Linked DNA regions of Homo sapiens. The protein of the gene in region 2 interacts with the protein of the main gene of each other region in a pairwise test. Each region holds a gene or a part of one and is shown on either strand. Other genes may lie near its edges.

The links.
Region 1: the proteins of BRWD1 (region 2) and HMOX2 interact in binary tests that used the Homo sapiens proteins (3 or more experiments, as listed by UniProt).
Region 3: the proteins of BRWD1 (region 2) and HIP1 interact in binary tests that used the Homo sapiens proteins (3 or more experiments, as listed by UniProt).
Region 4: the proteins of BRWD1 (region 2) and HDAC7 interact in binary tests that used the Homo sapiens proteins (3 or more experiments, as listed by UniProt).

The regions. Positions count from the first base shown.
Region 1 is NC_000016.10:4,507,398-4,510,885, reverse strand, and holds the end of HMOX2 (heme oxygenase 2), read right to left. Parts: intron 3,174-3,488; coding exon 2,682-3,173; intron 1,475-2,681; coding exon 1,348-1,474; intron 1,258-1,347; coding exon 1,130-1,257; 3' UTR 539-1,129; downstream 1-538.
Region 2 is NC_000021.9:39,184,973-39,191,661, reverse strand, and holds the end of BRWD1 (bromodomain and WD repeat-containing protein 1), read left to right. Parts: 3' UTR 1-4,244; coding exon of another isoform or gene 4,245-4,636; 3' UTR 4,637-6,180; downstream 6,181-6,689. UniProt on the Homo sapiens protein: May be a transcriptional activator. May be involved in chromatin remodeling. Plays a role in the regulation of cell morphology and cytoskeletal organization. Required in the control of cell shape.
Region 3 is NC_000007.14:75,546,924-75,553,961, reverse strand, and holds part of HIP1 (huntingtin-interacting protein 1), read left to right. Parts: intron 1-372; coding exon 373-509; intron 510-4,960; coding exon 4,961-5,071; intron 5,072-6,148; coding exon 6,149-6,207; intron 6,208-6,929; coding exon 6,930-7,023; intron 7,024-7,038. UniProt on the Homo sapiens protein: Plays a role in clathrin-mediated endocytosis and trafficking. Involved in regulating AMPA receptor trafficking in the central nervous system in an NMDA-dependent manner. Regulates presynaptic nerve terminal activity.
Region 4 is NC_000012.12:47,782,217-47,788,936, forward strand, and holds the end of HDAC7 (histone deacetylase 7), read right to left. Parts: intron 5,949-6,720; coding exon 5,829-5,948; intron 5,594-5,828; coding exon 5,496-5,593; intron 4,488-5,495; coding exon 4,369-4,487; intron 3,670-4,368; coding exon 3,536-3,669; intron 3,256-3,535; coding exon 3,171-3,255; intron 2,002-3,170; coding exon 1,863-2,001; intron 1,671-1,862; coding exon 1,625-1,670; 3' UTR 506-1,624; downstream 1-505. UniProt on the Homo sapiens protein: Responsible for the deacetylation of lysine residues on the N-terminal part of the core histones (H2A, H2B, H3 and H4).

The DNA.
Region 1 (3,488 bases), on a different chromosome or scaffold from region 2:
CAGTCTGCACACGCAGGTTCTGGGCGACCTCTGGCCCTGGCCATCTCTGCACTAACTCATCTGAATTATGAAGGTGGCAGTCTTGGTCAGTAGTTTAAAGAGTTTCCCTACTTTTTAACCCTTTTTGAAATAAAACTTTTACAGGTAGTAGATTCCTATTAATAAAATTATTTAAGTTCATGTTTCTCTTTTAGAGAATGAATTGTTTAAATACAAATATGTGCTTTTTTAAAACCCTTATTTTTAAATATATATATATATTTTAAAAAAACCTTTTAAGTAGGAAACCTCTAAGGTATTTCTGAGCTAAAAAATAGCAGTGCTGGATACACTTTAAAGATCTTTGCAAGACGGTTAGAGTGACTTTGCTTTGGAGACTAGAGGTGCTGGAGAGTAGACCCAGAGCAGGAGGTGGCTGCTGGGAGCCATGATGGACGATGTCCACTCCCCACACAGACATAACATGCCCTTGCTTCTGAGGGACTCTCCTATGGGGAGGTGGCTTGACCCACCCGGTGCCAGGAGGCAGGGAAGGAGGTAGCTTGCAAAGCCCACTTTATTGAGTGCTGGAGCATTTACACAGCGCGGAGGAGGAGATAAGCTGGGGCTGAGCAAACCGCACCCAAGGGGTTAGAGGGATTCTGGGTGAGAGGGATGAGCTCCCAAGGCCTCTGAGGCTTCCACCCACACCCACCCTCACTCCCAGGGTCCAAGAGAGGCCCAGAAGTTGTACAGCAGCATCCAGCAAGGCCCCCTCGCACAGCTTGGACTTACAGGCCACTCACCTCCAACAGGGGAGATAGTCACCCATGTACTGCAAAAACAGGGACTACCGGAAGCAGCCTAGGGCCCAGAAGTGTGGAAGCCTGGAGTAGAGCTGGGTCGGGGGCCAGGCTTGCTGCACTGTGCCGACTGCTCCCAGGGTGACGGCCTGTGCCCAGTGCGGAATATGGCCCATAGAGAGGATGCTGTCAGGCAGAGGCTCTAGCATCTGGCTTTTATTGGTTGCCTTTCTTAAACCCAGCATTTTTTAAAAAGTCACCTGAGGTGGTAGTTTAGTCAGGGCTGGAGAAAGGGGTAGGCCAGTGGTCAGTCGGGAGGAGGGTACCGGTGTGGCATGATGGGTGCTTCACATGTAGTACCAGGCCAAGAGTCCAGCAGCTAGGGCCACACCAGCGGCCAGGATGAACTGGAGGCTGGGCTTCCTCAGCACAGCCATAGCTGTTCGGAAGGGACAGCTGCTGCCCTCCAGGGCACCTGTGTGGCAGCACCAATAGGAGACATGGCATCAGTGGAGTCTCCTGCTACACCTGCCCCAGGAGGGGAGCTCAGGACACACAGACCTACCTTTGTCTTGTTCAGCAGCGTAGAAAGGGCATTTACGCATGTCTCCTTTCCCATCGTGTACAGGGAACCCATCCTCCAAGGTCTCTCTGGCCAGTGTGGAGCCGGCCTGGTCCAGTTCATTGAATATCTGCAGGAGCAGAGGATCGACTGAGCCATCTTTGGGCTGCCCATACTTTTTTTTTTTTTTTAAATGTCTTTTGAGATGAGGTCTCTGTTGCCCAGGCTAGAGTGCAGTGTTATGAACATGGCTAACTCACTGCAGCCTCAAACTCCTAGGCTCAAGTGGTCCTCCCACCTTATCCTCCTACGTGTGTGTACCACCATACCTGGCTAATTTTTAAATTTTGTGGGGAGATGGTGTCTCACCTTGGTTGCCCAGGCTGGTCTTCAACTCCTGGGGTCAAGTAATGCCCCTGCCTCAGCCTCCCAAAGTGCTGGGATTACAGGCATGAGCTACTGCGCCTGGCTACACTCTCCTTTTAGAGGACGCCCTCCAGAGAGAGTGAGCTGGAGCAGGTGAGCTTGCTCAGGTGTGCCAACTACACAGCAAGCAGCACTGGTGGGCGGCAGCTGCACTGCCTGATGGTCTTCCCTCCCTAGCAAGAGCTCTGGGGAGGTGTGGATATTGGTACCCCAAGAAGGCTGCCAAATGCTGGGTCTCCCCTGGGAACTGACCAGAGATGTAGCCTTCTCTGAGGTGGCTCAAGCCACTGAAACTACCACAGCACAGACAGGAGGGCATGAGTACATCCCCATTTCTAGGTGCTGGTTATTTTTTTATCAAGAAGCAACAGAAAACCTGGAACATGGGAGAATGAGACTGTGGCAGGGCATACTCATCCTGAGTGCCCTGGGAGGCCTCAGTGGAAGCTGACAGGACCTGGGGACAGAGTAAGCTTCCCCAGGTTCAGCCTCATCTAAAGGCTACTTGTAAACAGAGCTTATTTACTCTCCTTGGTGGCACTGGCTCTCTATTAACTTATAAAGCAGGGCTTCTCAGAGCAAAACTTGAAAAGAAAATTAACCATTCTTCAAGACCAGCATCCTGCAATGAGGGAGGAAGCCAGCTCCATTCTTCCAGACCCCTCTATGTGCGAGAGGACTCACCCTTCCCAAAACACTACCCACTGGCATCTATCACACCAGGCCTCCATGCTGGGAACCACCCACTGGGCCCACAAGCTCTGGTGGCCAATCTGGTGGCCACCTTCCTCTCGGCACCCTGCAGCTCATCTGTCCTAATGCCATGTGTGCCTTCATGGGCCACTATGGATCTGCTACCACTGTCAAAGTTTCCCTCTTCAGCCCTAGCAGCTGGCAGCCCCCAATAGTACCTGCATGTTATACTCAAAAGCCTTGTTGGCCTCCTCCACGATCCTCTCTTTGGTCTTCATGTTCAGGTCCAGGGCGTTCATCCTGGCCCGGTAGAGCTGCTTGAACTGCTGGGCATTGTCCACATTCTCAAACAGGTAGAACTGGGTCCCTTCCCCTGTGCTGGGGAGTTTCAGTGCTCGCTGGGCCACCTTCTTCAGCACCTGGCCCCCCGAGAGATCCCCCATGTAGCGGGTGTATGCATGGGCCACCAGTAGCTCCGGCTCGTTCTGCCCTATGTAGTGGATCCGCTCCACGTACTTCTGGGCAGCCTTGGGGCACTGCACCTGCTCCTCCCAGTTTTCACCAAAGAAATACTCCATGTCCTTGGTCAGCGCCTCCTTCCGGTGCAGCTCCATGGGGAAGTACAAAGGGGCAAAGGCTGGATGGTCCTTGTTGCGCTCCATTTCCTCCTCGAGGGCTGAGTATGTGAAGTAAAGTGCCGTGGTGGCCAGCTGTGGAGGTGACAGGAGGAGGCCAGCTATGCCTGAGCACACCACATCCGAGCAGCTGGATGCAGAGGCTCAAGTGACAACCCCCAACCCCAAAGACCCAATCCTATGGTCCATTTTTATGTAGTGAATTATTTAACACACAAGGAAGCTTTTGTTTCTTAAAGGAATGGCATGGTGAAGTCTTTGGAACACGCATACTTTTGCTTCCTTCACACCACTATGTTATTCTATCTAAGCCATGAGAACCAATTTTTTTTTTTTTTGGCGGGGTAAAGAGTCTCGCTCTGTCACCCAGGCTGGAGTACAGTGGGACGA
Region 2 (6,689 bases):
GATCTTTAATTTTTGATATATTCAAGTTAATTTTCTAAATGTGAATCAGTCCTTGGACTGCAACTATATATTCACCTACAAAATCCCAATCAAAAAATTACATGAGCCTGTCAAGCAGATCTTTAGTTTTCCACTTCACATAAGATCGTTAATGTTCTAAATTAATCTATTCATTTAGATGATTTTTGTCAGTTCTTAAATGGGATATAATAAATTTAGCATTTTCATCTTAACAAGCAAAAGAGTTAAAAAACAAAACAAAACACTACTCCAAGCCAAATACATTCTAGCTGGTTAATTCCAGACTTGTCCCAAGTGGTTCCCCAACCTCTTTTCCACTGGTAATTTCTTTTCATGCAGGCAGAATATAGGGGTGCGAGCGCTGTGAGTTTTACATATGAGCTTGGATAGGGGAACTGAAGCGAGTCAGGAGCCCTGCTGGAAAAGGGGTTTGCCATTGGATTGTCTGTGGCCTGGTTTCTTTCCAGTAGTACAGTAATAGGGTAGATTGAAAACAAGTATTTACTTCTGATTCTGCCTGCATTTAGTGTGAAATGCTCTTAAGGTATTGCTTCTAAAAAGCAAATTAAGCAGTTAAGTATAAAGTCCCTGAATTCATATTTCAAAATAAGGCTTTTATGAGATTTTTATTAAAAATTGCAATAGCCATCACAAATCTGAGTTTTTCTAGGGGTGAGAGAAAACTGTATTGTGATGAGCTAGATTAGTTGTAGTTCCAGAATAAGAACAAAAATTCAGAGTTGTGTGGTGCCCATCATTGAGTAAATGAACCCTAAAAATGAATAAGCTAATGAACTAGTTCATGGAATTATTTCTGATGGTCTTTTGACCTGATGCTGCCATACTGCAGTGTTACCAGCTCCCCCTAGAAAACGGAACTGTTTAAAAACACAGCAAGTTACAGAAACCATTTTATTCTACAGCCATTGGGGTACTTCAGTTTATGGGATGTTTTTGGAAACTTCTGCTTTGGGAGGGATGAAGATCATTGATAAATGTTATTTGCTTTCTGAGTTTTGGGGTCATTTCATTGCTTATCAATGAAGGGCAGACAGAGGAGAGAATATCTCAAGTCTTTTCTGATAAAAGGCTTGCTTGAGGGAGCTTATAACTTGCACCTAGAGGGTTTACCCACTTTGTGGATTTGATTTATCCACCAACCACAGCAACCAATAATGTCAAGATTCTAGGAGTTTATGAAAGAGGCTAGTATGTTTTCATTTTGAGTCAGACATTCTTTTCTCATTCTCAAATCTGTTTTAAATGCTCCAATTTTAAAAATGCCAATGAAAATTTTATAATGCTTCTGTAGTAACCATATGCAGTTTACTTTGAATTTAGGAAAACAGTTTTGTATGATGAAATATTGTGCAGAATCTGTAAATAAGGTAGCTTAAAAATTAAAAAAAAGTCTAATTAGAATATGATTAATCCTTGAAATGTAGAAACTAGAGATTGTGTTGAGTCAGAACTGTTATGTTTGTATCCAGGTTTCTATTCACCACATATACCATCTTAGAATACACACATATCTGTGAGTTATAATTTAAAGTGGTCATCCAGGGAAATGATCATGGAGTGCTACTACAGATGTACAGTTTTACACTACTGATGTGTTCTTGCCATACCCAAGTAGGGAATCACTTCCAGGAAAACAAGTCCTCAAGCACTCAATGACTTTGTAAACCCATGACTGAAACAAGACTCATCTGAGGCAGTAGGACTGGTGGGATTCTACTGACTTCTTAGTATCACATGGCACCATCACAAATGCATTGTTAGAGCAGCAACATCCAGAGTTCTTAAGCTTGTACCCTAACACACAAATTTGACTTCTAACCCTGAAATATCCTATATATATTTCTAAAACTGTTTGTAGTTTTCTTGAGAAAAAGCACTTTATAATTTACTCAGTTTTCAGTAATAAAATTAACACTGACTTGAATGTATTTAAAAAAATTCTCCACAGTTTTGTCTTCCTCAGATTGTTTTTATCCTTATTCTCTGAAATTCCTGTTTTATTGTCTAAGACTTAAGAGATTCAGCTTTATCAAGTTAGAGTACAGTGTAATTCAAATTCTCCCTCCCTTGGGCATAGTTACTGAAGTTCAAATTTCCTTAAGTATTTTTTAAAAACCTGATTTTAGTTTTTTTTTTCCTGCAGAATCTTAACTTTTCCATTATTCTGGATGACAAATAAACATTTATTAAAATGTGTTAGAATTAGTATTTACTAGGTTCCTAAATTGTCAGTATAGGTACTTTGATCACACATCAAAATGGAATTTCTGCAACTTAAAGCATTTTGTTACAAATTGTAGTTGAAATAGAATTTTATCTATTTGTCTGGATGAATAGGTTGTTGGGAATGAACCAGTTATCTGTTCTTTTCTTCCAAATGCAAATGGTGCAGCTAGTTGATAATAGTATATTCTCATCCTACTATAAAGTGCAAATTTCACCTTAATTTTGCATATTTTAAAATTTTTGTTTACCCTTTGTAGCATATTTACATTTTAGCATTTGCTAACATTGATTTAATGTGTTAAAGATTCATTTTGGATATAGGGTTGACTTGTTGGAGATACTAGTTCATAATTTTAAAATTCCCAAGAGAAGTGTCTTTGAAGTGGTAAACACAGTGCACTTTAAGCCACTTCTCTTCCCACAGAGTCCAGCTGAAGGAGGTAAGGGCATGCTGCATGAGAGTAATGCCGTGATGAGTGTCTTACTCTGGTAAAATGCCATTTACAATGCCTGGAGACTGAACACTGAACAAAACATAGTGCCCTTAGAATTTCACTGGAAAAACATGTGAATCACATAAGTTAGTTGGCAAAAGGAACTGATGTGTATGTGGTGGGGTTGCTTTGAATAAAGTATTTCCTAACCTATTCTGGGGAGAACGCTCAACTGATCTTAGAGAAGTGTGAAATCAGTTTCATAGACTTAGGGAAAAATCTGAAGTGCTTGCACTGTGAGGGCAGAGGCCTGCCTCATTAGTCTAGCTGTATGAACATGTCAGTCCACAGAAGCAGTTTTTACCTGTACTCATCTGCCCTTCAGTCAGCTTTGTGACAGAAGGGCAAACATCTTCACAGAAGAAAAAGTTCAGAAGGTTGGCATTGGTGGTTTCATTGCTACAGAATAATAGTGTTACTTGATAGTATCTGACTAAAAGAGCTCTCATTTTCTAGTACTTAGTAGTAAAAAGAATGTGGTGGAGTCCTCCAGATGTCTAGTGTGGGTGGAGGATATCAACTGGTTATTTCAGTGATCTACAGCCTTACCTTTTGAATGCTAAATGTCTGGAAACTTCAGGCAGGGTCCTACAAAACAAACTGCCATCAAGATTGGTGTGTACCATGAAGGCAGTTTTAGATAGTTTGACTGTTCATGGCTGCAAGAAAGACCTAAAATTCAAGGGCCCGTGAACTTCAGATACGTAAAAGGAATATCACTTCTGTTCTAGAAGAGTACTAATTAGACTTGTTTGTGAAATTTGAAAATTTGGCTTTGAGACACTGGTAACAAACATATCTGAGCCCTCCTAAGTTTGGTCAGCACGGAGTAGTAGCTCTGGCATCATGTGGCTGTGTAGAGCTCCAGTGTGATTTCAAGCCCCCTCTAAAAACTGCCTTAGTCTGCATGAAGTAGTTAACTCTCCAAAGTGCTTTTTGTCTGGCAAATCCCTTCACAATTTTCACCTCTCGTCTAAAAGCTTCCTTAAAGGAAGCCTTCCTTGATCCCTTAGGCTAGGTTAGGTTTCCAGTCTGTGTTCTCATAGCACTCTGCACTTTTTGGTTCCTTAAAGCAACTCTGTGTTATTTTTTAGAATTTTAATCTGAATCTCGTGTGTCACATACCTAGGTCAGAAAATACTGGAACAATGAAGTTAAGATTTAGTAATTCAAATTATGTAAAATGCTCATATATATGTTTTTAGATTAGCAGCTTTATGATGCCGATGCTGAAGGAACTTTTCACCCCATTCTTACAAGTCTGCTACTGTTTTAAGTGACATCCTTATAGTTGTAGATAAGCAAATGTAAGGTTATATCAATGTGAAGAAGCCCTTAGTATCACATTTTAAAATTTATCATTTAGCAATATGACTTTTAAATTTATTGTTTCCGAATGAGTGTTGTTGAGGAATGTTAGCAGTAGTAAAATCTTGTGTTACAAGATTTTTGCATTTACATGAACTTTCACTCATTTTTCAGAATTTGTTCCTAGAGACAGAGAACCCAATACAAAAGTGAGAACATGTATGCATAATCAGAAGGATGCAGTGCAGATGCCTAGTGAAACTCTGAAAGCAAAAATGGTACCTGAGAAAGTTCCCCGCAGATGTGCTACTGTTGCTGCAAATAAAATAAAGATAATGAGTAATCTAAAAGAAACGATCTCAGGACCAGAAAATGTCTGGATTAGGAAGAGTAGCAGAAAACTGCCCCATCGAAATGCTTCTGCTGCGGCTAAGAAAAAATTACTGAATGTTTATAAAGAGGATGATACAACCATAAATTCTGAAAGTGAAAAAGAGCTAGAAGATATTAATAGAAAAATGCTTTTTTTAAGGGGGTTCAGATCCTGGAAAGAAAATGCACAATAGTGACTATGAGAATGTAGAAGTGGCATCTGAAAACAATTGGTACACAAGTAAACTGGCAGTTACATTCTGCTCCCAGCTCTAAAATTACTCCCTTATTGGCATCTTTGGAGGAATTTTCTAAAAGCCATAATCCAGTGGGTTCCTCCCAGTCAGCTCTTGTACAGACATGTGCTCTGGGGAATTCTGAGGAGGAAATAAATTGCAGAGTCTGTAGGTGGAGAGGTGGAAAGAAAAGACAAATGGCCTGCTATAAGACTACTATTCCTTTCCAGAATGCAAGGCCTTGAAGACATGATTCCTTAGAGGAAGAATATAATGGGAAGTGTACAGGCTAGGAAGAACTTGAAGTGAACAAATTTCAAAATCTTAACCTGATGCTAATTTTCAGGGTTCTCCATTACAGTGTAAAAATTCAGACCACGACAACTATGGTGTCATGAGGAAAAAAAATCAGGCATTTTTCCAAAGGAAGTGCTAATGGGCCTATTTGACTTCTGAGTGAAGCAAAAACTACCCAGATCCATTCCCTACAATTCACATCCCCAAAGGTCAAAAACAAACTAGGAGGACCTGGGAATTTCAGCTGGAGATACTGATTATTGAGTTCTGAAGTAGAGTGTTGGAAATAGGCAATTAGAGAAAGTCCATTGATGTCATTTTGTTTATAATATTGCAGTTCATACTGAATGACCACTTGATATGACTAATTCAGGGAATATATATTTTTCTATGAAAGCTATGAATGTTACTATCACGGCTTTTCCTTATTTTTACTTGTATGTAGCAGCATTTACAGAAATGCCAAAAATGTGCCTCATTAAGAGGCAGGTCTTAATCAGTTAGATAAAAATAAAATGTATAGCTTAAGATCAAAACAGTCATATTTTTAGATACAGTGAAATCTTTTATGTTTCTCTACAGCACCTTAAAAATTAGAACTTGAATACTTTGAGTAAACTTACTACAATCTCATCCCAACAAACTTTAATGGTAGCATGTTTGGCCTATTTCATTGTGGCCTGTACTAGGATTAGAAAATTTGGTCGTGGTATAACAAAGAAGTGTATTTACAATAGGATTTAATTTGTTGTTAATATGTATTTGTTGAAATTAAAATTGCCAGATTAAATGAATATACTGTCGCATCTTTTTAACATAGTAACGTGTTACTGGAAAAATTAAGTTGTTGAAAGTAAGTTGTTTTCCCATTTAAAAATATCTGAATATATGATTTGCATGTGTAAATCTGAAAAACTAAACTACAGAAACCTAGGGTTTTCTATTTCTTTTTTAAGTCAAATGCATTTTTTTTTTTTTGTTATACAGATGAACCAAGTGTCTAAAATACTTGAGAAATTTGTGGTTGCATGTCTGTTTTAAAAAAAAGGCTTTTTGTTTTTTAGCATAAGCCAGAATATTCTAACCTACTAAGTCTGTGTCCTTTGCTCCTTTTGTAGTATACTTTCATCTAAATTACTGATCCCCAATATGTTGATACACAGGTGAGAAAGGGAAGAATTCCTAATAAACTGCTATTACTTTTAGGTGCATGGGGTTTGATTTTTGAGCTCTAATGAAATGCTTAAACTTCTTTCCAGTTCAAATTTTACACTTAATTTATAATATTTATTGAGTATATTATGTCCTCAACAAGTAACTATAAAATGAAATACTTAACTCGGTGAAGACTATTTTATGCAAAGTTTTTTTTTTTTTTTTTTTTTTTTTTTAGCAATTTCAGTGTAATGAAAGAATTTAAGCTTTGAATTTATAATTTGCTGTGGTGGGGTTAATTTCTGTCAGTATTTGAGATTGTATTATCAGTCTTGCATAATGAAATCCTTTTTTGGCTAAGTATTTAATTCGAACATATTTGCCTTTTTAAAAAGTGCTTGGCCTAAACTTATTGTAACTGCATGAAATAAGCATTTGCTTAAAACTTAACATTGTAAAATTGTTCTCTCTGAAATGTGTGCAGAATTTAAATCATGGCCAAATGTATTACTATTACCCTATTTACAGTAATTTGCTTTGCAGAAAATATTTCTTCATC
Region 3 (7,038 bases), on a different chromosome or scaffold from region 2:
AACAGCCTGGCCAACATGGCAAAACCCCATCTCTACTAAAGATACAAAAACGATGGGCCAGATGCAATGGTTCACGCCTGTAATCGCCGTAACACTTTGGGAGGACGAGGTGGGCAGATCACCTGAGGTCAGGAGTTCGAGACCAGCCTGGCCAACATGGCGAAACCCCGTCTCTACTAAAAATACAAAAATTAGCCGGGCATGGTGGCGCACCCGTAATCCCAGCTACTTGGGAGGCCGAGGCAGGAGAATCGCTTGAACTCAGGAGGCGGAGTTTGCAGTGAGCCGAGATGGCGCCACTGCACTCCAGCCTGGGCAACAAGAGCGAGACTCCATCTCAAAAAAAAAGTGTCTATTGCCTTGTATCTCCAGCACTGACCGAGGCCTGTAAGCAGTATGGCAGGGAAACCCTCGCCTACCTGGCCTCCCTGGAGGAAGAGGGAAGCCTTGAGAATGCCGACAGCACAGCCATGAGGAACTGCCTGAGCAAGATCAAGGCCATCGGCGAGGTACTTGGAGTAGTATCATTGAGGAGCATTGTTATTCTTCTGGGTGTGCGTGCTGGTGAATGGCCAGGGAATCGGTGATGTTCTGAGCTAGTTCTTTCTGCACTTAGAACTTGATTCTAGAAAGAGATTGTTAAAATTGGAAAATCTGGCCGGGTGCAGTGATTTATGCGTGTAATCCCAGCACTTTGGGAGGCCGAGTCAGGAGGATCACTTGAGGCTAGACGGGATGGCTCACGCCTGTAATCCCAGCACTTTGGGAGGCTGAGGTGGGCAGATCACTTGAGGTCAAGAGCTAGAGACCAGCCTGGCCAACAGGGTGAAACCCTGTCTCTACTAAAAATACAAAAATCAACCCAGCATAGTGGTGCATGCCTATAATCCCAGGTACTGGGAGGTGGAGTCAAGAGAATTGCTTGAACCCAGGAGGTGGAGGTTGCAGTGCACCGAGATCATGCCATTGCACTCCAGCCTGGGCATAAGAGTGAGATCTATCTCGAAAAAAAAAAGGATCACTTGATCCCAGAAGTTTGAGACAGGCCTAGGCAACAAAATGAGACCCTGTCTCTTTAAAAATTAAAAAAAAAAAAATTTAAAAAGGAAAAACCTCCTGAAGGACTTTCCAGCTATATTTAATTCACTGGCTGTTAGCTGAGAATCTACTATGTTGTCATCATTACACTAGGCAATATCAAAGAAGTATAGGCAGCTCCCCTGTCTCTGAGGATTTTTATCTAGGTGGGCAGGTAATACCCAAAATGGAAATAACACTGTGTTCATTCATTTACTAAAGATGTAGTGCCGAGCATGGTGGCTCACACCTGTAATCCCTGCACTTTGGGAGGCCGAGGCAGGAGGATCACTTGAGGCCAGGAGTTCAATATCAGCCTAGGCAACATAGTGAGACCCTGTCTCTACAAAATAAAATTTTTTTTTTAATTAGACAGGTGTGATGTCACGCACCTGTAGTCCCAGCTACTCGGGAGGCTGAGGCAGGAGGATCGCTTGAGCCCAGGATTTGGAGGCCACAGTGAGCTATGATTGTGCCACTGCACTCCAGCCTAGGCAACAGAGTGAGACCCTGCCTCTGCTATAAATAAATATGTCCTGTATACCAGAAATTGGGTTAAGTATATATAGGGACAGAGAAGACATGGACTCTATGGAAAAGAAAAATAAGAAAACCATTTCTATGCAGTACAGTTTTTTTTCATTTTTTCCCCAGTGTTATGAATTGGAATATATTGGTTAAGATACAAGGATAGGGCCAGGCACGGTGGCTCACGCCTGTAATCCCAACATTTTGGGAGGCCGAGGCAGGTGGATCACCTGAGGTCAGGAGTTCTAGACCAGCCTGGCCAACATGGCAAAACCCCATCTCTACTAAAAGTACAAAAAATTAGCCAGGCGTGATGGTAGGCGCCTGTAATCCCAGCTACTTAGGAGGCTGAGGCAGGAGAATCACTTGAACCTGGGAGGCTGAGGTTGCAGTGAGCTAAGATCGTGCCTTTGCACTCCAACCTGGGCAACAGGAGCGAAACTCCACTCAAAAAATAAATAAAAAATAAAAGCCATGAGGATAGACTGTCTAATTGGAGTTCCAGAAGAAGATAATAAAAAGACCACATCCAGCCAAGGTGGGTGGATCAATTGAGGCCAGGAATTTGAGACCAGCCTGGGCAACTTAGTGGCGCCCTGTCTCTACAACAAATTTAAAAATTGGCCGGGTGTGATGGTGAGCACTTTTGGTCCCAGCTACTCAGGAGGCTGAGGCAGGAGGATCACCTAAGCCTGGGAGCTCAAGACTGCAGTGAACCGTGTACTCTGCAGTGAATTGCAGAGTGTACTCTGCAGAGTGGTTCACCTGCAGTGAACCACTGTACTCCAGCCTGGGTGAGAGAGTAAGACCCTGTCTCTAAAAAGAAAAAATAAAAAGATCAGGGCCAGGTGTGGTGGCTCACGCCTGTAATCCCAGCACTTTGGGAGGCTGAGGTGGGTGGATCACTTGAGGCCAGGAGTTTGAGACCAGCCTGGCCAATATAGTGAAACTCCATCTCTATTAAAAATACAAAATTAGCCAGTTGTGGTGGCTAATTTTGTAATCCCAGCACATACCTGTAATCCCAGCTACTTGAGAGGCTGAGGCAGGATAATCCTTTGAGCCTGGGAGGCGGAGGCTGCAGTGAGCCGAGATTGCACCACTGCACTCCAGCCTGGGCGACAGAGTGAGACACTGCCTCAAAAAAAAAAAAAAAAAAAAAAAAAATTATCATCTACATCTTTGCCTCCCTAAATAATAGAGTTAGTTTCACATGATATAGACTACAGGTAAATGGAGTCCTACTGTATATATTCTTCTACAACTGGCTTTTTCACTCCACATTCTGTGAGATTAATCCAAGAAGATAAATTCATTTTCACTGCTCTCTCATTATCTATTGTGTGAATATCGCTTAATTCATCCGTCTGTTCTCTTGGTGATGGACACTTGGGTTATTTCCAGTTTGGGTTGTTATTAATTTGCCCCTATGATCATATATGCACACATGTCAGTTTCTCTAGAGTATATACATAGAATCAGAATTACTAGGTATTAGGATGAATCTCACACATAGAATGTTGAGTGAAAAATCAAGTCATGGAAAAATATATACAGTAGGATTCCTTTTATATAAAGACTCAAACATTCAAACTTAATAGGGATGCATCTATGTGGAATTAAAAAATAATAATAATAAGACAGGCCAGGCATAGTGGCACATGTCTGAAAATCCCAGCACTTTGGGAGGCCGAAGCGGGAGGATCACTTGAGGCCAGGAGTTTGATACAGCCTGGGCTACAAAGCAAGACTCTGACTCTACAAAAAAGTTTAAAAGTTAGCAGAGCCTAGTGGTGTGTGCCCGTTGTCCCAGCTACTCAGGAGGCTGAGGCAGGGAGGATCACTTGAGCCCAGGAGTGGGAGGCTGCAGTGAGCTATGATCGCACCACTGCACTCTAGCCTGGGCAACAGGCTTTTATGTTTTGTCTTTAAAAAATAAAAATAAAATAAGACACAACAACCACGCTCTTGAATTCTGTGTCTCTTGGGGTAGAAGGCAGGGAGTAAGGGAGATAGAATCAGGGCACATACAAGTTCAAATAGGATTCCAAAGGTATTGATGTTTCTTACAGCATTCCTTAAGTTTTAAGTTGGGTGGTGGATAACATGCGTCTTTATTCTTATCCTTTGAACCATTCATATATATTTTATACCTTAGTATGTATAACACATCATGTTTTAAAAATCATAGGCTTTGCTGTTTGTCAGACCTTAGTTCAAATCCCTGCCCTGCCATTTGTTACCATAACTGTGGTCAAGACGTTCTACCTCTGATCCCTGGCTTCCTATCTGCACAGTAGGAATAATACCCGCCTCATATGATCACTGTGGAAGCAAAGTTAAGTCAGGGTCAAAGTGGAAGATATCATCTGTATTTGAAAAAGTTGTAGGCCAGGTATAGTAATTCAATCCCAGCACATTGGGAAGCCAAGACAGGAGGATCACTTGAGCCCAGGAATTCAAGACCAGCCTGGGCAACATAGTGAGACCCCATCTCTATTAAAAAAAAAAAAAAAACAATTATCCGGGCTTGGTGGTGCACCTCTGTACTCCCAGATACTCTGGTGGTAGAGGTGGGAGAATTGCTTGAGCATGGAAGGTCGAGGCTGCAGTGAGCTATGATCATGCCACTGCACTCCATCTCTGGTGACAGGGCAAGACTGTGTCTCAAAAAAATAAAAAATTAGGGCCAGGTGTGGTGGCTTACACCTGTAATCCCAGCACTTTGGGAGGCTGAGGCAGGAGGATTACCTGAGGTCAGGAGTTTGAGACCAGCCTGGGCAAAATAGTGAAACCCATCTCTACTAAAAATATAAAAATTAGCTGGGCATGGTGGTGCAAACCTGCAATCCCAGCTACTTGGGAGGCTGAGGCAGGATAATCCCTTGAGCCCGGGAGGCGGAGGCTGCAGTGAGCCGAGATTGTGCCACTGTACTCCAGCCTGGGCAACAGATTGAGACTCTGTCTCAAAAAAAAAAAAAAAAGAAAAGAAAAGAAAGAAAGCAAAAGAAAAAGAAAAATTGTAAAAAAATACCTCCTGTGTAGCTAGTACAATTGACACTGCACAACTAAGGGACTGGGGTCTTAGTGGTGGCGGAATGGCCTTGCAGGGGGAGGCAGCGATGGCATTCTGGAAGGAGGTGGATCCTGAGTGAGGAGGAGCATGAGGTTCCAGAGTTTGTGTCACAGAGAGGACAAGATGGGGTCTGCAAAAGACCCCCCCACAACCCCTGTGGCTTGCAGAAGGTGTTTGCTGGGTGGCCTCCTGCCTTGCCATCTTGTAAGGGTTACAGATGGCAGAGGAGAAGAGACAGGAGGCCCCAAGGTCAGTTCAGCCTTTGTGATGTGTTCACAGGAGCTCCTGCCCAGGGGACTGGACATCAAGCAGGAGGAGCTGGGGGACCTGGTGGACAAGGAGATGGCGGCCACTTCAGCTGCTATTGAAACTGCCACGGCCAGAATAGAGGTAGGAGGTTCCTGCAGGATCTCCTGAAACGATGCCTTTGCAGCTGCCCTTCTGCAACACTGCTCATTAAACATGTCACAGTCGTTCATTAAGGCCATGGCAACCCCCTAAGACAGAAACCAGAATTTGCCAGGCACAGTGGCTCATGCCTGTAACCCCAGCACCTTGGGAGGATCACTTGAGTCCAGGAGTTTGAGACCAGCCTGGACATCATAGCAAGACCCCATCTCTACAAAAGATAAAATAATTAGCTGGGCATGGTGGTGCATGCTTATAGTCCCAGCTACTCCAGAGGCTGCAGGAGGATCACTTGAGCCCAGGAATTGGAGGCTACAGTGAGCCATGATTGCACCACTGCACTCTAGCCTGGGTGAGAGAGTGAGACCCTGTCTGTAAAAATGTTTTTAAATTATAAAAAAAAAAAAGAGAGACCAAAATCTGAACTCGCTAGTTTTTCTGAGTGATAGAAAATGAGAAGGTCCTCATGAGAGAAGGTCCTCATGAGAGAAGGTGATTAGTTTCCTCAAGAATCAGATACTTTGGTGTCAGAACATCCTGGGTTCTGGCCAGGCGTGGTGGCTCACGCCTGTATTCCCAGCACTTTGGGAGGCCGAGGCAGGCAGATCATGAGGTCAGGAGTTTGAGACCAGCCTGGACAACATGGTGAAACCTGGTCTCTACTAAACATACAAAAATTAGCTGGGCGTGGTGGCGCGTGCCTGTAATCCCAGCCACTCAGAAGGCTGAGGCAGAAGAATCACTTGAACCCAGGAGGCGGAGGTTGCAGTGAGCCGAGATCGTACCGCTCACTCCAGCCTGGGTGACAGAGTGAGACTCCATCTCAAAACAAAACAAAATGACACGGATCACAGAGCCAGCCCACTGCAGCTGCACTCCCCCTGAATAGGTTAGAGTCTGGATTCTTTTCTGACTCTCTCAAGAATGTGGGCAGGGACTTGGGGACTTCCAGATTCAGGTTTCCCAGCTACCACACGATGTTGGACTGAAAGTATAGTAAGACATTAGTGGATCCTTAATATTCAAGGCACATTTAGAAACCATGCTTCTTTTTCACAGGAGATGCTCAGCAAATCCCGAGCAGGAGACACAGGAGTCAAATTGGAGGTGAATGAAAGGTCGGTCTGAGCGGCATGGTGGGACCTAGGGGAGCAGGATCTGTCTTCCTGACATTGGTCTATACTTTGCATACTTATTAGGGAATTAGAGGAGAGCAGTAGCAGCCACGGGGAAGGGCTGAGTTGATGTAATCATCAATAACAGTATTAATGATGACAGCAATATTGCTGTTTCACTATAGAAAAGAAACCCGCGCGGTAGCTCCCGCCTGTAATCCCAGCACTTTGGGAGGCTGAGGAGGGAGGATCACCTGAGGTCGGGAGTTCGAGACCAGCCTGCCCAATGTGGTGAAAAGTCATCTTTACTAAAAATACAAAAATTAGCCAGGCGTGGTGGTGCATGCATGTAATCCCAGCTACTTTGGAGGCTGAGGCAGGAGAATCACTTGAACCTGGGAGGTGGAGGTTGCAGTGAGCCAAGATCGTGCCTCTGCACTCTAGCCTGGGCGACAGAGCAAGACTCTGTCTCAAAAAAGAAGAAAAGAAGTCCTAGGAATCACAATTTCACTATTCCTTACGATGGAGACCCACAATTAGATCTCTCTCACTCCCCAGCCTCTCCTTCGGTGCCTCCCCGCAGAATGTTCCAGCAACCTCAGCACCCTTCTTACCTCCCTTTCCCATTCCAAGCTTGCCTTTGGCTAGGAGTGGGGAAGAGAACCGTCGTGTTCATTGATCTTGGATCTTGATCTCAGTGTATCCTCGACTTGTTTGTTTGGCAGGATCCTTGGTTGCTGTACCAGCCTCATGCAAGCTATTCAGGTGCTCATCGTGGCCTCTAAGGACCTCCAGAGAGAGATTGTGGAGAGCGGCAGGGTGAGCGTGGGTGTG
Region 4 (6,720 bases), on a different chromosome or scaffold from region 2:
GGCTCAGTGTATGCTTAATCAGGCATGGTGCATCAGAGCGGGAAGGAGCCATCAACAGTGTATACTTCTGGAGCCTTCTACTGATAAACAGAGGCCCCAGAAGACGATTTGACTTACCTGAGCTCCCAGCTGGGACTTAAACCCAGGTGTGTCTGAGTCACAACTCTTCGGGGATGCCGTGGTGAGCTGGGGCTGAGCTCCTGTATTCCCACTCCCCCACCCCACCCCCACTCCTGCCATATCAGGGCTGGTCTCTGTGGACTCAGCCCAGGGCTGCCTCCTCTTTGTCACCCCAAAGTGGGGCAGCCAGGGACAGCCAGGGTGTGTTCAGAATGGGTTCTTCCTGCAGGGCAGGAAGGGCAGATTGTTAAAGGGGCTGCGGCCCAGACCACCCTGGTCCCTCCTCCGGCAGTGACTCAGACCCACACTGTGCCGTGCAGCTGTGTGCCCTGCACACCCGCTTGACGGCGCACTGCTCACTTCTGGGGGGCCCTTTCAGAGGCACTTTTAAAGCAAATAAAACATTTATTGTTCAGATTTTTTTCCATTTTCTTCCTTTTTACAAAAACATGCATACATACACAGGGTATGGTGGGTCCTAGGAAAGACACACACACACGCCTCACTCACACACACGCTCACACACACGCCTCACTCACACACATGCTCACACACATTTTCCTTCTTGACCCCAGGCCTGGACCCCCAAAAGCCTTGAAGACTTTGCCAGAGCAGCCTCCCCTCCTCCATGTCTGTATCTTCTCTCCCACCCCTTCCCCCTCAGTCAGGCTACTCCTATGTGGGGTGGGAATCAGAGCTATGGTGGGGGAGGCCCCAGAAACAGAGAAGGCTCCCCGAGTGGGCAGTGGCCGAGGGGTCCCAGGGGTATGCTGCGCTTCTTGGGGAGATGAAGGGTTTGGCACCATTGGATCAGGAAGCACAGGACTCCCAGAGCACCCATCTGCTCCACCAGGGCATCGCCAGGAGGTTGATGTAGGGGGGCCTCTGGCGAGGGTACGGACCAGATGGAGGGCTGCCAGTCTCGGCTGTCAGGGAGCTTCGTCTCAGTGCCCAGTGGTAGAGGGAAGCTTCCAGAGTCGTCTGAGGAAGCAGGTGAGAGGGACTACCCCTGCACTCAGGAATATGGGACCTCTTGGCTCCCCACTCCCCCCTAGCCCCTAGAGCCTAGGAAGGGCCAGCCTGTCTGAGGCCAAGTTCACATTTCTGTGTGGAGCCTGAGGCTGTGTGCAAAGTCTGGGGTTTGCAGAGCCAGGAATAGTGGTTAAGGGTGAGCCCGACGGAGCCGGAGCCAGTCCTCCTCTGTGCAGTCCTGAGGAATGGGGGCCACAGCCAGGGCCCATACTGGAGGGGAGAATCTGTTCTCGAGAGCCCTGTGGGGGTCGCCGCCCAGCCCGTCTCCTCTCAGGGTCCTCTCCAGTTCCCATTCTAGACCCAGGGATTTTCTCACGCTCCCTGGGATAACTGTCAAAGCAGGCAGGCTGTTCTCTGGTTCCAACTACTTGCCCACAGGATCTCTAAAGACCCAGGAATGGGGGCTATTGCCAGGGGTTAGAAGAGAACCAGGTCCCAAGGGCATGGTGGGCGGGCAGATGGTTCCAGAGCCTTAGAGATTCATAGGTTCTTCCTCCTCCACCAGCTGCTCCGAGGGCCTGTGGGGAGGGACAAGGGTGGGATGCTGGAGCACCAGGGCTGCAGCAAGGGCCTTAGCTAAGCTTCCTCTCAACCCTGGTCAGGAAGCCTGGGAGGGTTGGGGTGGCTGCATAGCGGACCCGGGGTCTTCAAGCAGGGAGGAATGAAGCGGTGGAGAGGCTGTGGGCCCAGGGCCAGGGGTCTGGCATTACCTATCTTCAGCCAGGATGCCCACAGAGAGGGACGCCAGTGCGGTCACTGCCTCCACTTCTTCTTTGTCAGCCCCTGGCACTCTAGGCACCCAGGAGTCTGGACAGGAGGCCAGGCGCTGCATGCAGCCCCAGTATTTACCTGGGGTAAGATGCCAGGTCAGAAAGGGTTGGAGAAAGCAAGCCCCTCCACACTGCGTCCTAGACCGGATATTGAGGTTGGTGTCTCAGGCCCAGGGCCCCGGAGGAGCGGGCCTGTCCTCCACTTAGGGTCGGCTCTCCCACCTGCCCCTCTCCTCACTTCGCTCCCACTCCCGCACAGCCTGACAGGGTACACAGAGTGGGTTCAACATGGCTGTGAGGGAGTCCTAGCAGGTGCCCAGCCTTTCTCTCATCCCCTGTGGCTGCAAGGCCACCTTTGACTCATTCCCCACAGGTGCGGGGCTCCTGAGAGCATCAGGAGAGCCTGCTTGCCTGCAGACAGGGTCTGTGTCACAGTGACCTCCCAGAGCCCCAAGCTCGGGCCTCCCACTTAAACACAGCCCCCACCAGTGCTCAGCCCAGCACTCAGGAAAGGAGGGCCTGGGAGGTGGGACGAACACAACATGGGAGAACTGACCATCACCACGGCCGCTCTGCATGGGTGCCCAGGCCAGGAGAATGCTCCTCCTGCCTGCTGCTGTGAGGAACCATGTCCTGGAATCTGGCTCAGTGTGAGGGCACCCACCGTAAGAGGAATCAGCCATGTCTTTACCATTATGTAAAGACATCACGGCTCCCCTACCCAGCCCTTGATATGGGAATCTATTTTACTCATTTTTATCCCTAGTATAGATTATGGGTCTTGACATAAGATGCTCAATAGATGTTGAGTTGAAGTTGAAAATTTAAAGTACTTTACAAATGTGGGGGTTATCCCAAGACGCAGCCCCCAAGCCAGCAGAGCTCCTGAGACGCCTGTGGCCAGGACTGAGGGGAGGGATGGGAACCAGGCCTTTTGGCAAACAAGGCCTGAGTGTTGCTCTTGACCTGGCCCTGGTCTAGGGCTGTCGCTAGAGATGGAGGCCAGTCCCTACCTTGAGGGGCCACTGTCTGGTAGGCCCTGCTGGCTCCATCGGGGGGGCTCAGAGGATAACCCCTCACTGGGGGGTGCTCACCATTGCTGCCTGGGTCACTCACAGGAATCTTACTCCAGACCAACAGCAGGTCACCTGGCTGGCACCGGAAGCCCTAGGATCTGGCCACGGTGGGGCAGGGTACCACCAAGATCCTTCAGTCTGAGCTCAGCGAGTGTCCCATCTCCACACTTACTGTGCACCCGGATCACGGCCTCCAGAGAGCGGATGGCATTGAGGTTGGGTTTCTGTTTCCAGCCTTCTTCTGAAAGGGGATCCACCTATAGAAAACAGTACATCAGCCACCAGTCTCTCAGGGACCCACAGGCCCAGCTCACTCCCACCCCAGGGGCCCCAGCCTTCTAGCCACAAGCACACTCTACCTAGGCCAGGAGATGCTGCCTGGACCTAACTTGGAACAGAGGCTTCCGCTTCGCCTACCTTGTTTCAGGCTTGGCCACTCCCACCCTGTCCCATCCCATCTGCCTGCTCCTTGGGTAGTCCTGAGAGCCGGGCTTACCTGCCTGACAGAAGCATGGATGGGGGAGGGAGACGGCTCACCCTGTTACCCAGAAGAGCAGCCACACAGGCCTCAGAGGCGTCACAGATGGCTGTGAGGTCATGGCCACCCTCCAAGGCCAGCACCACTGCGCCTCCTGCCAGGTTCATCAGTTGCTGCGTCATGTATCCAAAACCTAGAGGTTGGGAGGGGAGAAATGGGAGGGGCGGGAGTGGAGAGGTGACCCTGTTCTCTACCCCTGTGGCTTCCCTGCTTGCTTCCTCCCTAATAAAGAATGACTCACATGTATCAATCACTATTTCCAAAGTGCTTTCACATTGAATGTCGTACAAAACCTACTAGTATGCTTCACTCAAGGCTCAGGGAGGTTAAGGGCCTTGGGAAAGGCCCCACAGCTAGTAAGTGGCAGCAAGGTAGGACCTGAACTTGGGTCATTGACTCTAGCCTGTGTCTTTTTCACTGAGCTACACCCTCTCTTCTTTCTGTACTCTGGGCCCTGTGGCCACCCTCTATTCTGAGAGTGCTGCTTCTCTCTCCCCTTCCTCTGGAGGAGCTGCCAGCCCACCTGGAATCAACCCAGCTGTGGTGGGGAGTCCCACGGCTGAGCTTCCTGCCTACTGGACTTAAGTCCCCATGGGTATGACCTGGTCAAGCCCTCCGTGGTGAACCGGCCTGGTCCTGAGAAAGGGCTTGGGCTGTGCTCGGCTAGGAGATCCCGGGGAATTTCAGGACCAGCTGCCATACTCCAGTCCTCAGGCTGAAAGCCCTGGGCTGGCCACTGCCACCTTCCCTTTCTGACTTGGGAGTGCCTCCCAACTCCCCGCACCGCCTGGCTCTCTGTCCCTAACGTCCCCCTCAGCTGAGGCTCCCTTACATTTGGCAGAAACATGGTAGCCACCCAGTGGGGCCGGGTGACCCTCAGCAGCATCAAATCCAGCAGACACCAGGACTAGGTCTGGAGAGAACTCTCGGGCGATGGGCATCACGACTATCCTGTGAGGTCACAAGAAGTGGCGATCATCGTACTGTGCAGGGTTGCCAGGGGCGGTCCTGCCAACTTTGCGGTGGGGCACCCTGTTCTTAGGACTCCAAGGCTCCCAGTGCCCCAGCACAACTGGCAGATTTCTCTGACCTCCTTGACCTTGGCTGGCCACCCATGTCCCTGGCACACACAGCCTAAGGACTCAGCCCCCTAGGGGACTTAACTAGCAAGAGGCAGAAAGGAGCCAAGGATGGAGCACCAGAGGGAATGAAAGAGGAGTGTGTGTGACCATGTGTGTGTGCATGTGTGTGTGTGCATGCAAGCATCTGTGGGGTGCAGTGGCCGGAGCCACAGGGAAAGGGTAATCTCACAGCCTTGCGGAGATGGACTCTGGTCACAAAGCTTCAGGGACTACAAGTGCTCAGTCCTTTGGACTGAGTTGACCACACCCAGCTACTCACTACTTGAGAGCTGAGTAGGGGACAACTAGGTCCTCTGAGGTTCTGCGCCACCTGGCTACATTCTCTCATCCTCTCCCTCTTCCAGGCCCCCCCCCAGCTGCCTTCCTCTACCCCTGATCCAACTCTGGGGCCTGCTTGGGTGTTCTTCATAGCCCTGGGCTCTGAGAAGACTCCAGGAACTCCAGCCCAGGGCTCTCGTAGAATTAGCTGTCATGGAGATAACTCCAGAAAAGTGTTTGAAGATCCATTTCCAGAATTCTCTTTTCCCAAATAGAGTGGCAGCCTTCTCTGACTAAATGTGCCAGCTCTGCTCACTCCACCACCCACCTGCCAGCAATCAGTTTGACATTGGCTCTCGGTAATGTATGCCTTTGCAAAGCACCCTTTGACTTTTGCATTCTTCTCTCTGTTTGTCCTATTCTCACTGGCGTTCACCTACAATGTCTAGGAACTGGTGGGGACAGGCTGACAATCCAACTGATCACCTCCCCCCTGGTGCTCTTGGGAGAAGGGACAGGAGAGGGTGGACTTGCCCCTCTGGGCCCCCAGAGCACGTACCTGAAAGCAGCCAGGTACTCAGGATCCCCCATGGGGGGGTCCAGACCTCCAGCCCAGGCCACATTGACATTGAAGCCCTCACCGCTGCCAGCCCCTACCTGGAAAACAGGAGGCAAGAGAGACATGAGGACAGCAGAGTCCCAGAAGGGGAACACCAGTTTGTTAGAGCTGCCAGCCCAGCTCATCCAGCCTCCCCATTTCCAGGTGGGGAAGTTTAGGATCAGAGAGGCTCAGCAGTCTGCCCAGGATCACACAGCTCGTCATGACAGAGGCAGAGTAAGTGTCAGGAGGAGGTCAATGAGGCTGGAAGATGTGGCCCTGACATGCGGTTACCTCATCCACAGCCCCACTCCCCGGGAAGAAGTTGCCGTCGTCATGGCGATGCAGGGAGATGTAGAGCACACTGGGGTCTTGGTAGAAGGTTTGCTGGGTGCCGTTGCCATGGTGCACGTCCTGTGTAGGGAGACGGGCAGCGATTAGGGAAGGCAGAGAGATGGGGGCCAGGACAGGTTAGAAGGGTTTCAAGGTCAGTGGCCATTCTGAGGTCAGGACCCTAGACTGGGATCAGGAACCTGGGGTTCCTAAAGCCACACGGTCGAGTGGCCCCACGTAATCCACTGCCCGGCTCTGAACCTCGGCCTCTCTGTGCTGGACAGGGCTGGCTGTAATATGAGATCCTGAAGGAGAGGAGGTGTCCCAATCTCAGGCCAGCCCACCTGAGAGAGTAACTGTGTGGACATGGGGTTAGTGGCAAGGAGAGGGAAGGGTTCAGGGTTACACATATCAGGAACCACTCTGTCTTGCATAAAGTCATGAAGTTATGAGGAGATCAGAAACCAAGCTCGGTTACAGAGGGGCAGGTACACGAGGCCCAGCCCCATCCCTCGTAGGGAGAGCTGGGCCCTACACTCGACTCACAGGACCATGCGGGAACTCAAGTGTGCAAAGGTCCTCCACCGCTCTCAACTTCTGCTTAGAAATGTCTCTTACACAGCTGTCAGTGCAGAAGGGACATAGCTTAGCAGTTAAACGCAAGCACTCTAGAGCTAACCCGCCTGGGTTCAAATCCATCTCATGACTTACGAATGACTGTGTGTGAGTTACTTAATCTCTCTGTGCTCACTTTCATCTGTAAAGTGGGTTATAGTCAGGATTAAATCCATCATGTGTAAAACCATCAGTGTCTGGATGTGATTAGTGGTGTACTGATGTTATCTGCTATTAT